2 linked regions of the Homo sapiens genome follow. The protein of the gene in region 1 interacts with the protein of each later gene in a pairwise test. Each region holds a gene or a part of one and is shown in the gene's direction. Other genes may lie near its edges.

What was found. The genes of interacting proteins can lie anywhere in the genome.
Region 2: the proteins of PROM1 (region 1) and LYPD6B interact in a protein complementation assay, tested with the Homo sapiens proteins (one study listed by IntAct).

The regions. Positions count from the first base shown.
Region 1 is NC_000004.12:16,080,998-16,087,851, reverse strand, and holds the start of PROM1 (prominin-1 isoform 1 precursor), read left to right. Parts: upstream 1-3,828; 5' UTR 3,829-3,874; intron 3,875-4,122; exon of another isoform or gene 4,123-5,747; intron 5,748-6,854. UniProt on the Homo sapiens protein: May play a role in cell differentiation, proliferation and apoptosis. Binds cholesterol in cholesterol-containing plasma membrane microdomains and may play a role in the organization of the apical plasma membrane in epithelial cells.
Region 2 is NC_000002.12:149,160,680-149,167,715, forward strand, and holds part of LYPD6B (ly6/PLAUR domain-containing protein 6B), read left to right. Parts: intron 1-84; coding exon 85-156; intron 157-769; coding exon of another isoform or gene 770-798; intron 799-7,036. UniProt on the Homo sapiens protein: Likely acts as a modulator of nicotinic acetylcholine receptors (nAChRs) activity. In vitro acts on nAChRs in a subtype- and stoichiometry-dependent manner.

The DNA.
Region 1 (6,854 bases):
TGGTGTTGATGAAATCCCTCTGCTTTTGTTTGTCTGAGAAAGTCTTTATTTCTCCTTCATGTTTGAAGAATATTTTTGCTGTATATATTATTCTAGGGTAAAAGTTTTTTCCCTCCAGCAGCTTAAGTATGTCACGCCACTCTCTCCTGGGCTGTCAGGTTTCCACTGAATAGTCTGCTGCCAGATGTATTGCAGCTCCATTGTTTGTTAATTCTTTCTTTTCTTTTGCTGCTTTTAGGATCCTTTATCCTAGACCTCTGGGAATTTGATTATTGCATGCCTTGGAGTAGTCATCTTTGGGTTTATCTGCTAGGTGTTCTATACAATTCTTGTATTTGGATATTGATACTTTTCTATAGGTTTGAGTGGTTCTCTGATATTATCCCTTTGAATAATCTTTCTACCCCATCTCTTTCTCGACCTTGTCTTTAAGGCCAGTAACTCTTAGATTTGCTTTTTTAGGTAATTTTCTAGATCTTGTAGGCATGCTTCATTATTTTTTATTCTTTTTTCTTTGTCTTCTCTGACTGTATTTTCTAATAGCCTGTCTTTAAAAGTGCACTATTTCTTCTCCTTAATCAATTCTGCTATTGAAAGACTCTGATGCATTCTTCAGTATGTCAGTTGCATTTTTAAACTTGAGAATTTCTGCTTGATTCTTTAAAATTATTTCAATATCTCTATTAAATTTATCTGATAGAATTCTGAATTCTTTTTCTGTGTTATCTTAATTTTCTCTGAGTTTCTTCAAGATATTGATTTTGAATTCTCTGTCTGAAACATCACATATCTCTATTTCTCCAGGGTTGTTCCCTGGGGACTTATTTAGTTTGTTTGGTGAGGTCATGTTTTCCTGGGTGGTCTGGAAGCTTTTGGATATTCATTGGTGTCTGGGCATTGAAGACCACCCCAAGAGCCTGCTTAGTACTCTACCTCCCTGTGGCTGAGCTGGTACCTAAGGGGAAGGAAAACATCCTCTTTACTTTTCCTTCTGCTTTTGTCAAGCAGAAGGAGTCTCTCACATTAGCCACCACAGTTGGGAATATACTGGGTCTCACCTGAAACCAGCAGATCTCAGAGTCACACCCAAGAACCACAGTGTACTACCTGAGTATTGCTTCTGGCTATTGAGAACCCAAGGGCTCTTTAGCCAACAGGTGATGGGTCCTGCCCAGACTGTTTCTTTCCCTTCAAGGCAGCAGTTTCCCTTCTGGCCCAGGATGTGTCTAGAAATGTTATCCACAAGTTAGGACCTGGGATGGGGGTCTGATGACTCAGACTGATGCCCTGTCCTACTGTGGCTAAACTGATATTCAAGATAACAAAGTCCTCTTTACTCTTCCCCCTCTTCTCTTCAAGCAGAAGGAATGGGTCTCTTCGTGCTGTTTTTAATCACTCCAGCCACTAGCATTGGGACTGATGCAGACACTAAGGATCCAAATGATTATTTTTGTTTTGTTTTTTTAACTGCATTGGGATTAGGCAACAGAAGGGTCTAATGTGGCTGAGAGTTTTTGAGAGAGGAGCATTTTTAGGAGGGTAGCTGCATTCCAAGTAGAGAGCTCTGCTGGGGTAAAAGAGGCATGAGTGCTAGAAAAGGGCATGCAGTGATGAAGAGCCACTAACAGCACTACCTGGGGTTGGGGTAGGGGTGTCACAAGCACTCCCTTAGCTCCCCTGTCTGGTGTCTCAGTAAGTCGCATGCCCTCCAAGTCTACTGGCTCTGAGCTCAGCATTTGGGCTTGCTTAGGAGTTGCTGTCCTTGTGGCCTAGGCTGCCTTTAAGGTTATTTGGGGCCCCAGAGCACTTTACTGAAACTCAAGTTTTCACCACTGGTATGGGCTATTTCCTCTGAGGGAAATTGGCTGAGTTCAGCCTAGTTTTGCTTTCTGCTATGACAGAGCAGTACTGAGTTCAATTCAAAGTCTCCCAATCACTGCACTCTCCCTTTCCCAAGCCACAAGGCTGCTGCTGCTGGGGGATGGAGGACTGGCGGCATTGGCAAATCAAAACTGTCTTTCCTGGCTTCTTCAGTGCCTCTTTCAGTAATATGAAATTAAAACCAGGTATTGTGGTTACTCACCTGATTTTTGGTTCTTATAAAGGTGCTTTTTGTGTGTGTAGATAGCAGTTAAATTGTGTTCCTAGCCGGGGTGGGGGGTGGGTGGTCAAACCTTCTATTTGACCATCTTGCTTCACCCCTTTCTACTGATACTATTGTTGTTGATATTATTAGGAATGAAAATGAGCCCTGTGAGTTATAATTGTCTTCATTTTGCAGACCAGGAAACTGAGGCTCAGAGAAATATTAAGCAGCCAAAGTCACAGCGATTAAAAGAGGCGGGACCAAACTTTGACGGAGATCAGGACCCACTCCTTTGAGAAATCACCTCTTTTGCTAGCTCCAGCCTAAAAGTGCTATCTAGGAGAAGGTTTATGGGACCCCAGCAGATGTTCAACCAGAAACTTCTGACCTGCAGGGGCTGCAGAGGGGAAATCTGCCCTGATTAGAAGAGATTTGTTTTCCACCCATATTAGTTTGATCTCACATTGCTATAAAGAACTACCTGAGACTGGGTTTCAGAGGCTGTACCGTAGGCATGGCCAGAGAGGCTTCAGGAAACTTACAATTATGGTGGAAGAAGGGAAAGCAAGCACATCTTCACATGGCAGAAGGAGAGACAGAGCGAGCAAAGGGGAAGTGCCACACACTTTTAAATCATCAGATATCCTGAGAACTCACTCACTATCATGAGAACAGCAAGGGAGAAATCCGCCCTCATAATCCAATCACCTCCCACTAGGTCCCTCTCCCAGTGAATTATAATTCAATATGAGATTTGGATGGGGACACAGAGCCAAACCATCTAACCTTGCCATGTCCTACTGTACTTTTTGGAAGTTTTCTGAACTAACATTTCTTGTCTAGAAATATACACACTCAAGATCAATCTAACTATTAAAAACAAAAAATGCTTATTTTCCAGTACCTGTTTTATGTTAGATTCTGGGGTAAAAAGAAAAAGGTACTGACTTAATGTTCCTGTCTATCATTCATTTGTAGCTTGTGCATCCATCCTTTCATCTGTCTATCCATATCACAAACATGTATTAAACACCTGCTGTATGCTAGACACCATCCTGAAGGTGCATTTCTTCCCTAAGTCTTTTTTTTGCCTGCCGGAGAGTACAGTATTCTCAATTCAAGATAAGAAGTGGTGAATAAGAGTGAAGTGCAAATTGGTGAGGACACTTAGACACCGAGTGATTACTTCTGACAGGTTTCCACCACTCAGCTAAGTAGCAAGGTGAAGACTCCGAGGTTGAGTTGTAACTCACAGAGCGGGAAGACCAATAGGCAGTGAGAAAAGAAGTTGCAGTGGCTTCACGTTATAGCAGATGCCTGTGTGTACACATGGGAGCGAATATGGCTTTATGCTGTTTTTCAACCGCTTCAGCCACTAGCATTGGTACTGCTGCACACTAAGGATCCAAATGATTGTTTTTTTGTTTTTTGTTTTGTTTTGTTTTGTTTTGTTTTGTTTTAAATTGCATTGGGATTAGGCAACAGAAGGGTCTAATGCGGCCGGGATGAGACAGGAGAGTTTTTAGGAGGGTAGCTGCATTCTAAGTAAGGGACTCTGCGGGGGGAAAAGAGGCGCAAGCGTTGCAAGAAGGGAGTGCAGGGGGTTGAGCAGGCACCTCTACAGGAAATGGATGCTGTCCAGGTGCTGGTGGGCGCCCCAGGGCTACGTGGCGAAGCAGCTCAGCCGGTCCAATCAGAGTGCGTCCAGGGCTCGGGTTTCGCGATCTTTAAGTGACTGAGGCAGATCCCCACGCGGCACCTGGCCATGCTCTCAGCTCTCCCGCCGCGGTGAGTATGTTTAAGGAATCCTTTCCATTACGGCGGCCCCATACCTAGGTCCCCGTCCGGGACAGAGGAAGCCGCAACGGGTCCCCCCGGGCACCCGGGCCTTTCTCCTGCCTCCCGCCACGTCCGAGGGTCCGGCCGCAGCGCCGCCTGAGCCCCTCCGCGGCCGGCAGTGGGAGGCGGGCTCTCCGAAAGCCGTCGCGGTGGTCCCAGAAGCCGGGTCATAAATAATTCACGAGCCAGGGTCTGGCGAGCTAAGGGAAGGGCGGCGGCAGCGGTGACTAGGGCGGGAGCAGGAGCGGGAGCCGGGTGCACGGTGAGTAGCTGGGTCCTCATCCCGGAGCGAGAGAGGCATCTGCTGACCAGGCGCGGGGCTGAGCGCACTCCTTCCACTGTACTGGGGGTGTACAGTGAGGAGTGGACGGGTTCGCTCTGCGCCCCCCTTACCCTAGCCATCTGCGCCGCCTCCCTGGCCCCTCAGCAGGTGGTGCGGGCCCGGACAGCGGCTGGGGGCCAGAGGAACTGCGGGGAGAGCGTGGTGGTGCCGGTGCCCGTCCAACCCAAACTTTTTAGTCTGAGTGGTGGCCCGCGACGCCCCGCTTGGGTCTTCTTTCCATCCACTGGGGATGGGGGCGGGGGTGGGGGTAGCCGGCGGCCGTGGTTCCGGAGCGGGAGTCGGAGGTGAGTGTGCGAACTGGACCGGGGCCCCAGAGACTTCGGACTCGCTCTCGGGGAGAACGGTGACCGAGGTGAGACTCGCCAGGGTCTTGGGAACGAGTCTGCGGTAAAGGAAACTCTAGGGATGGCCCCGGGGACGTGAGGCGCTGAGCTTCCCTGGCTGAGTGCGGAAATGGGCCAACACTGTGCAGCCGACCACAGCGGGAGTAGGGATATGGGGGTACAAAGCGAGGCCATCTCCCCGCGTCCGTGGGAGAAAGCATGCACCCCTGGCTTGAAGCACCTTCCCAGCCTCTCGCTCCACGGCCCTTCTGCTTGCATGCGCGGGGACCCGCGGCTATCGCTAGATGGAGAACTGGGGTGCTCAAGGCGCACCCTGCCAGAACACGCCGACCGGACAACAAAGAGGAGCGTGGACAGACCAGGAGCTTCACGGCTGTAGAAAGTCAGAGGCTCGGGATCAGTTTCCCCGAAAGCCCGTGTCTGGAGGGGCAGGGAGTCGGATCGGAGGGAGGAACTAGCTCCAGAACCCCTTCTCTCTGGCAAGATCGCCCCCGATCGGTGCCCAACAGGGGCCGCGGCGGGGAACTGGCGCCGACGCGCTCAGAGCAGCCAAGTTACTCCGGCAACCCCCTCCCCTGCGCGGCTGCGAATTCCTGGAGTCTCTTGGCTTCCCGCGCCCGCCCCGCCGCTCATTCTTTTGTGTCCCGCAGCTCGCGAGAGGCTTCCGCCCAGAAGGGAGCTAGGCCTGGAGGGGGCTTGGCCTGGAGGTGGTTTGGAGGTAAAGGGCGGGGAAGCCGGCGCCCCAGGCTTCATTCTGCAACAGGTTGCTCCTGGAGCCCGCTAAGGCGACTGACCTTTCTGGAGAAAGGTTTGCTGGAGTTCCTGAGGGCGGCAGCTGTTCTTTGTTAAGAAAGCAAGTGCACGATCGTAGTTCTTGAGTGCCCCCCGAGACTCATGCGACACGAACAACCGCTGCGATATGTTGGGTTGAATCATAAGAAATTGTCGGTTTTTTGGATGGAAGATGTGAATATCGTCAACCTCATATGATTCAACTTGTGTGATGTTACTCATTTTTCTTTTCTCACCGTCCTTTCTGTCCCGGTTATCCTAGGAGCCCCGGTGGAGTTGAGCTCAGAGTATTGATGCTAGCAGAAGCAGACAGACCCCAGATAGCCTTCCAGCTGCGTGCCAGGTGCTTTACCTATTAGATCGCTAGCCTGCGAACCCTATGCGAAATCCTCCTTTGACAGAGGAGCAGAAGAAGGGTTGGAGAATTCAAACAACTGTCATCTTGGCAGAGTTAGTAAGGGGGACCAGAGCCCCCTTACTGTTGCTGTTGTCTGTCTATTCAGCAGTGCCCTTTAGTTTATTCTTGTTTTTTTTTTCATGTGTTCCATAATTTTTTTCTAAACTTCCTTCTGATTTCTAAACTTTTCTAAACTTCTTTCTGATTTCTAAACTTCCTTCTGATTTTTATACGAGACAGTTTCTTTGTGTTTTAGTACAATGAGGTGAACAAATGCATCAGAGGACAAGCTGAAAACTTTAAACCAAGTTGGTACTGTTTAAAATATAAAGGAAATAGGTTTTTCAGGGAGCAAAGAGCTATTTCTGAGATTTGTTAAGGGTCAAGATACTTTGTTAAAACAGTGGAAGCTGAGTCGGGGGTAATTTTTATCAGATAAAGGACTTCTTGGATTCTGTAAGTTGCCTGTTCACTCTGATGGTAGTTTCTTTTGCTCTGCAGAAGCTCTTTAGTTTAATTAGATCCCATTTGTCAATTTTGGCTTTTGTTGCCATTGCTTTTGGTGTTTTAGACATGAAGTCCTTGCCCATGCCTATGTCCTGAATGGTATTGCCTAGGTTTTCTTCTAGGGTTTTTATGGTTTTAGGTCTAACATTTAAGTTTTTAATCCATCTTGAATTAATTTTTGTATAAGGTGTAAGGAAGGGATCCAGTTTCAGCTTTCTACATATGGCTAGCCAGGTTTCCCAGCACCGTTTGTTGGGAATTGAACAATGAAAACACTTGGACACAGGAAGGGGAACATCACACACCGGGGCCTGTTGTCAGGTGGCGGGAGTGGGGAGGGATAGCATTAGGACATATACCTAATGTAAATGACGAGTTAATAGGTGCAGCACACCGACATGGCACATGTATACACATGTAACAAACATGCACATTGTGCACATGTACCCTAGAACTTAAAGTATAATAAAAAAATATATATACATATACATATATATATGTATATGTATATATATAAAAGGACTTCTTGAAAGGATGGTCCCTGGG
Region 2 (7,036 bases), on another chromosome or scaffold:
TTTGTTAGAAAACATTCCAGTTGTTCAAGAACGTTACTCATCGTCAGCAGTGGCTCTTTCCTTATCTTTTTTTATCTCTGGTAGGCTGATTACTCTGAGTGCAAACCTTTTCACTGTTCCAGAGAGGAGCCTGACAACCACATTCTCCTTCTCAAGGTAAGAATGGCAGCTGTTACAACAGCCCTCGGCTTTTCATTTGGGAGCTCTGGTTAAGTTGTTGGGAATGGACTCCTGAAAGTCCCGGGACCCTGTGTTTTTCCCATCTCCTTGGCAGTTTGCCAGGTTTCCCATCCTAAGCCCTCACTGCTCACTGTGATCCTGCGGTTTGGAAGCCTGGCTTGTGCTTAAGTTACAATTCTGGTGAACCAAAAAGGGGAGTCCCCATGCTCAGCGAATGGTTGGTAGATCAAAGACTTCTCTGCTTACCACAGAAGCTAATTTGGTCAATTGAAAGAGAACTTCCTCAGAGTAATCTTCTCAGTGACAGATGGGGGTGCGTCGGGGGTGTGGAGCAATGTTCAAAAGTGTCTGCATTAAGTGAAATACATTGCCGAATACACTTAGAACATGTGTGCACTAATTATTGAGCATTTGTAGTTACAGAATCTTTGCATGTTAAGCCTTAGAAAATATTTACTGATCTAAAACAGGACGAGAGTGTTACCCCAACAAAGAAGAGAGACAGCATAGATGGACGTGGGCACATTGAAAGTTATGTGTTTAATTGATGATTGCTTTTTACTTGATGCATTTTGTCTTTTGGTTTTAGGTGTGGTGCTTACTGCGCAGGCTGACCAGGTTAGTGTGTCAGGCCTGATTCCATTTTTTTAGGTGAAGACATCAAATCAGAGGTTTGGTTTTTCTGAGGGCAGGTGGCAAATGCCAAGGAATGCCTGTGTGAGGCTTCGGGGACTGGGCCTGGTTGTCTCATGGTCTTCTTCTTGGCTATCAAGGCTATCAACTACCAGCCCAGAGGCCTTCTGCCTGTCAAACAGGCCTCCCACTTTGCATCTGATGGCTGGAAGAGAGGGAGGAAACATGCAAAGGAAATTGCTTAAGATTATGAGCTGATCTGGCCAGGGCCATGTTTATGTTCCTGTTTCTTGCCTAAAGAGCAGATTGAATTATTAGCACCTGTGTTTGTTAATGATAATTATATGTTTCAAGTACAAAGCAGAATTCTGTAAAATATCTACTAAGATGCCTTTCTAAATGGATAACATTTTATGACCCTAATAAGGCCCAAGACAACAAGCAGGAATTTATATATTATCATCACTCTTTTCCCCGGGGCATATTGGGTGGAATGTGAGCTGTAACTTCAACTTAAGAATCTGCTAGTAAGAAACCCAGAGGACTTGAGGATCAGAGGAATGACGGTCTAGTCATAAGACATATGGGAACATTGGGTCATTTTCCAAAGCAAGGAAACGTAATTCATTGTTAGTAACAGTGTTAAACAGTGTCAGGATCATCATCATCATGATCACCGTGGTGATAAAATGTAACTCTATTATTAACCATCTCTATCACCACCATCACTACAGGTAACATTTGTTTGTTCTTACTGTCTACCAGGCAACACCCTAAGCATTTTGCATGCATTCTCTCACTCAATCTGCACAGCATTCCTGTAAGGAAGGGTCTATTAATATCCACCTTTTATAGTTGAGGAAACTGAGGCTTACCTAAGAGATTAGGTAAGTTGCCCAAAGTTAGACAAGCTAAAAGGTGGCAGAACTGGAATGTAACCCATTGAACAGCACTGAATGGGGCCAACCCATGTGGAGTATTTACGGCTGTGCTTTACTCGATGTCCACACTCACCCCTGCTTGCATTCCCTTTTGTCCTGACCACCACCTACTGTTGACACTCTAGCTATCTCTTCTGCATGAAGGTAGCCAAAAAATTCAAGAGCATTTAAGTAGTTCAAGATCGTTAAAGCATATTTGGCCTATGGAGAACAGCAGAAAGAATTAAGAGTAAAAATCACCCAATTTTAAAAGGTGCCAGTTGTAGTCATGAACACTTTAGTGTATTTTGCTGTTGTTTTCCCCTTTGTATTTACTTTTTTCACATAGTCTCTATGTACTTAAGTTTTGAACTTTAAACGTAACCAAGTCGTTTCTTGCGCTTTTGCCTGTTTTAATGGCTGCTGAGTACTCTATTAAATGTGTATGGTTAGAGAGCCTTAAGTCTACTCCACAAGAAGTTATATCCTTGACTTGCTCCTACGTGATAAGTGCGGAGTTTCTGCTCACCATATGTGATAGCTAATTTCTGTTTTCTGGGCAACTGGGTTGGAATTGTGGGGTGCCTGCATCCCCTCACATTTTAAATACCTTGCATCTTGAGAGGGGTCTCTGTGGGGGGTGGGGCAGGAGTCCTGCTTGCCTGGAGCCCAGATTCAGCTCTGTGCCAAAACTAGCTGTAAGTTACTTTATTTTATGGCATCTTCATCTGTGAACATCTCATCAGCTCTGTAATTCCACACAGTCAGGAGTTTTCTGAACTCTCTTGATTCATAACCTGAGGAGTTTCAATAGATGCAGCAATTTTGGTTGAGCTCAGTGGAGTTACTCTGAGATGCTTTAAGCAGGGAATTTTGTTTTTCAAGATGATCAGACCTGTAAGCTCTTGGAAGGAGAGGGTCTTACTTTTATATAATTCTTGCCATTCCCGCCTCTGCACCCTCAACAAACTTCTTCCTCCATGCTGACATACCCACAAAATAGATAGTACAAGGTATGAAATCAACAAACAGAAGAACAAACAAGTAATGCACAGACAAAGGCTACCGGGCTTGTGTAAGAACCTTTAGCATCATGGCTGTCCAGCTTATCAAATAATTGAGTAAGATTGTTTTCATTTCAATGTGTTAGCTTTGTTTATAACAAATGGGGACTTAAGCCTCCAGATCCTCTCATCATATATTTCAGAGTAATTTCCCTATAAAGTTGGGTATCAGTTCTTCCCTCAGGTTACAGGTGAGGGAACACTGATTTATGGAACTTGCTATTTTTTCCCCCTGTGTCCTGGAGTGAAGTAACCTTTTGCTTAGGTCACAGTAAAATCAAAGCTTAGAATGTAATCATTCTCTTGTTTTGGGAAGGGAAGACTTTTGCTCTAACCTGGGGGGTCAACAATTGGGTCTATGAAATAAACTGACAACAGGCAGATTAACAGGAGAAAAGGTATGCAAATTTATTATATGCATGAGTGCATCATAGGAAAGAAAGTGAATATCCAAAGACATAGTCAGATTTAGGAGCTCATATATTCTCTTCGTAAGAGAGAGAGGAGGAAGGACGTAGGCAAATAAGAGAAGAGTAAATGATTTTTTGGGAAGATGAATGGGCCCTCAGAAGAATAGATCGGAGATACGGTAGTTTGTGACAGAGTTTGTCTGGGTGGGGTGTGTGTTCTAGTTTCCTTACCGGTGATAAGATTTAATCTCCTCTGGTTGATGAAACTTCTGTGGAGGGAATTGATGACAACCTAGTTTCTTTTGGAGCATCTGTCTGTCTTTAGGCAGATAAGGGGAGCTCAGAGCAAGCCTCTCTCTGCACTTGCTGTTTTTCAAATGCCTTCAGCTCAAAATAATCATACTAATACAGTGTGTTTTGGGGTGGCATATCCTGAAGTCCTTCACTTGCTTTTACCAGCAGAATAAAATGAAGGCATTCTGGGCTTCCTGCATTCTTGGAGCCACATATCTGGACCATGGATATGACATGATTGGTTCTGACTGGCTCCCCTGATTCTCCCTTAGTGATGCTGATCTTGAATTTTGTGACTCATGCCATGAAGGTGTCTACCCACACTGTTGTGCAATATCCAAGACCTGTGGAATAACACTGCTTCCAAGGAAGCCAAATTCAGGCATTTCTGGCTTTGTATTCTATTGCAGACTAAAAGGAACAAACAAAATCCTGTATTCCCACGATATCCCTCTACAAGGATCTAACTTGGCACCCTACCTTGGTGCTGAAAGCTTGCCTCCATCTTCCCAAATTTGATCACTAATTGGTCTTAGCTTTTTCCAAGTGAATGTGCTGCCTCACTGGCCCTAGGTGGGTGATATAAGAGCTTGGAAACACCTTGTGATGGTTGGTAAACCTGCTGGCAAGTGGCCTGGTTTTATGTGTGTGTGTTTGAAATACTATTGATAATAAATCCTCATTTGTATCAGTGAGGGCTCTGCATCAGTTATCTATTGCACAACAAACCACCTCATACATAGTGGCTTAAAACAACAGCTGTTTAATTTGCTCATGATTCTGTGGGTCAGCAATTTGGGCACTTTTGCTAATATTGCCATTTGGGCTCAGCTGGGTGGTTCTTCTGTTAGTTTCACCTGGGGTCACTCATGCCCCTGTGCTCAGCTGGTACCTTGGAGCTAGGTGATCTAGGGGATCTCAGCTGAGATGACTCATTTCTGCCACATGGTCTGCCCCTCCAATAGCCTAGCTCAGCCTCCTTGACATGACAGAACTTTCTGGCAAGAGGACAAGAGCAAAAACTATAAGCTTGAAGCCTAAACTCAGAAATTACGTAGCCTCTCTTCTGCCACATTCTGTTGGTCAAAGAAAGCTATAGGACCAGCCCAGATTCAAGGGGAGGGCATTGGAAATAGACTCCACCTCTAACTTGGAGTAGCTGCAAAGAATGCATGGCCATTTTAAATTTATTGCAGGCTCTTAACTTTGTTATAAAAGCAATCTGAAATTACTTTAAAATTATTTTGTCATTTAAAAATCCTGGAATAGGGATGGTCTTGTCAGCCCATCTGAGAGGAGTCTGGAAAGTGGAGGTCTTCAGTAATGTACCTAAGAATATAATAAAGTTAATAACAACACAAGCAGGCACTAATATTGTTTTTACTATATGCCCAGCACTATATGGAGTCCTTTAGATATCATAACTCATTTGGTCATTACAAAATCTTATGAATAGGTGTTATTTTTATCCCTAACTTATAGGTGAGAAAACTGAGGCACAGAGCGGTTAAGCAACTTCCCTCGAAGTCATACAGCTAAGTCGTAGACCTGGGATTCCACTCCAGGAGGTCAGGCTTCAGAGTCTGCATGTTAACCCTAATGCTTCTCAAGTTAATGGAAATTACATCTTTCTGACTCCTAGCAGAGTTCTCTCTTGGACTGTGTGGTTTTTCTAGAGACAGGGGGATTGGCTATTTAGAGATGGTTGCTAGGCCTTCCTGGGTACACCCAAGTGACCAAAAATGGTTCTGTCACATTATAGGAGACCCTAATTAGATGTAATAAAGACACTTATTATCCCATGGAACACACAGTAATTCTCCTGAGCCCAACAGTATTTCCTGGGGGTAGGGGTGGAGGTAGAGGGTTCTTATTCTTCTCTTTGGTTGGCAGGCATTTGAAGAATGAGGATATTTAATAACGCCCTCTATAACCTTTCAGGTAGCCTCTTATTTTTTGGTTTCAAGTAATCAGAAAGACTTAGCCTCAAAGAAAAAAATGTTGTGTTTATTTAGCTTTTTGTTTAAGGACTATCCCAAGGAAAGGGTGGGTTGATAGCCTTTTTAATCTAGGGTTTGTTGAACTCAATTAAGTCCAGTGTCCAGGTAGAACAGGTGGTTTATCTAAGAAAAATGACAAATTTTGCTGACATTTTTGAGGTCACCCTTGCAGCCATGAATAAAGTGGCTCATAGTACCAATATGAGTTACAATAAGAAGTTACTTAACCTCTCTGTGCCTCAGTTTTCTAATCTATAAATTAGGGACCCTTTCTGTTTGAGGGGCATGGCACATTTAGGAGCCAGGACTAGACTTGCGTCTCCAGGATGGTCATATCTCACTCTCCATTTAGCTATGGAGTGGGGGAGAGACTGCCAATCTAAGGCTTAAGGGAAGTCACTCTGGCTGTCTAGCATCTTATCTCCCTTAAATCCCATCCTTGTCTCTTGACTCTACAACTGGCCTCCTTCTGACACCCTCATCGTCTTATGTGGGCTCAGGTTGGCATCAATGTCTGTTGCATTGCTACCGAGAGTGTTTGCTACAACTTTGCACTCATGAGAATTTGCATGTTCACCCTAATATGGACTCCAGCTAGAATCTGAGCTGGAAAATGGGCAATCTGGACATGCATGGTCCCACCAGAGAGGAGAGATCACAGGATGGGGACTAGGGAGACCCAAGCTGCAGACTGCCCCGCCCCTTCCATCATTGCTCACCTTCCCACACCAAAAACTTCTCAGGACAGCTTTCTTGCTTGTCAACCACGACATCCTAGGGTTATTTTCCCCATACCAGTGGAAACCCTGTTACCTTCATAATCTTTTCCTTCAACTAATCTTGAAGAGTTTATAATCCTCTTCTGCATTAAGTGTTTTTTTTTTTTCTCTTGTGGATGCTCACTTTCCTCGTTTCTTATTCAAACCAGCTGGGACAGTTTATCCCCTAGCATAGAAATGAAAACCTGACAGGCAGGTCTCTGCAGTCGAGATTGGGCTGGTTCTCTCTCCAAACAGTATTTTACTGTTGGCTGCTGCAGTTGAATAGCTCAGCCTGCCATTATGACAGAATGGCCCAGGACAGACTACAGGCAGGAAGCGTCTTTTGTTTCAGGGGGCTTTGGAGCTGTTTTTTCCCTGCCATAAACTTAATTGCTTTCTGTGATATATCTGGCAAACCTACCACTGTCCTTTTTGCTGCCTCCTGCTTGGTCAATCAGGACTACCAAAGCCTGCAGCTTTGCTTTTTAGGAGGTTTGGTTGATTAACATGAGTTTGCCTTTGGCTTTTGCTAACATTGCCTTTTTTGGGGCACTAGTGGTGCCCAGGAGAAGGATGTGAGTGTGGTACGTGTGTGGGGAGGTATAGATGAGAGACAGCTGGGTCTTCTGGGACAGTGGGGGAGCAGGCTCAGAAAATTGTGGTTCACCACAGGGTCCTCACGTGCATGAGTAAGTCATCCTCCTTCCTGAAAGGGAGGTTTTATTCACCTTATCACCATAGAGGATGTTTCAGATGTGGCAATTCCTTTAAGTC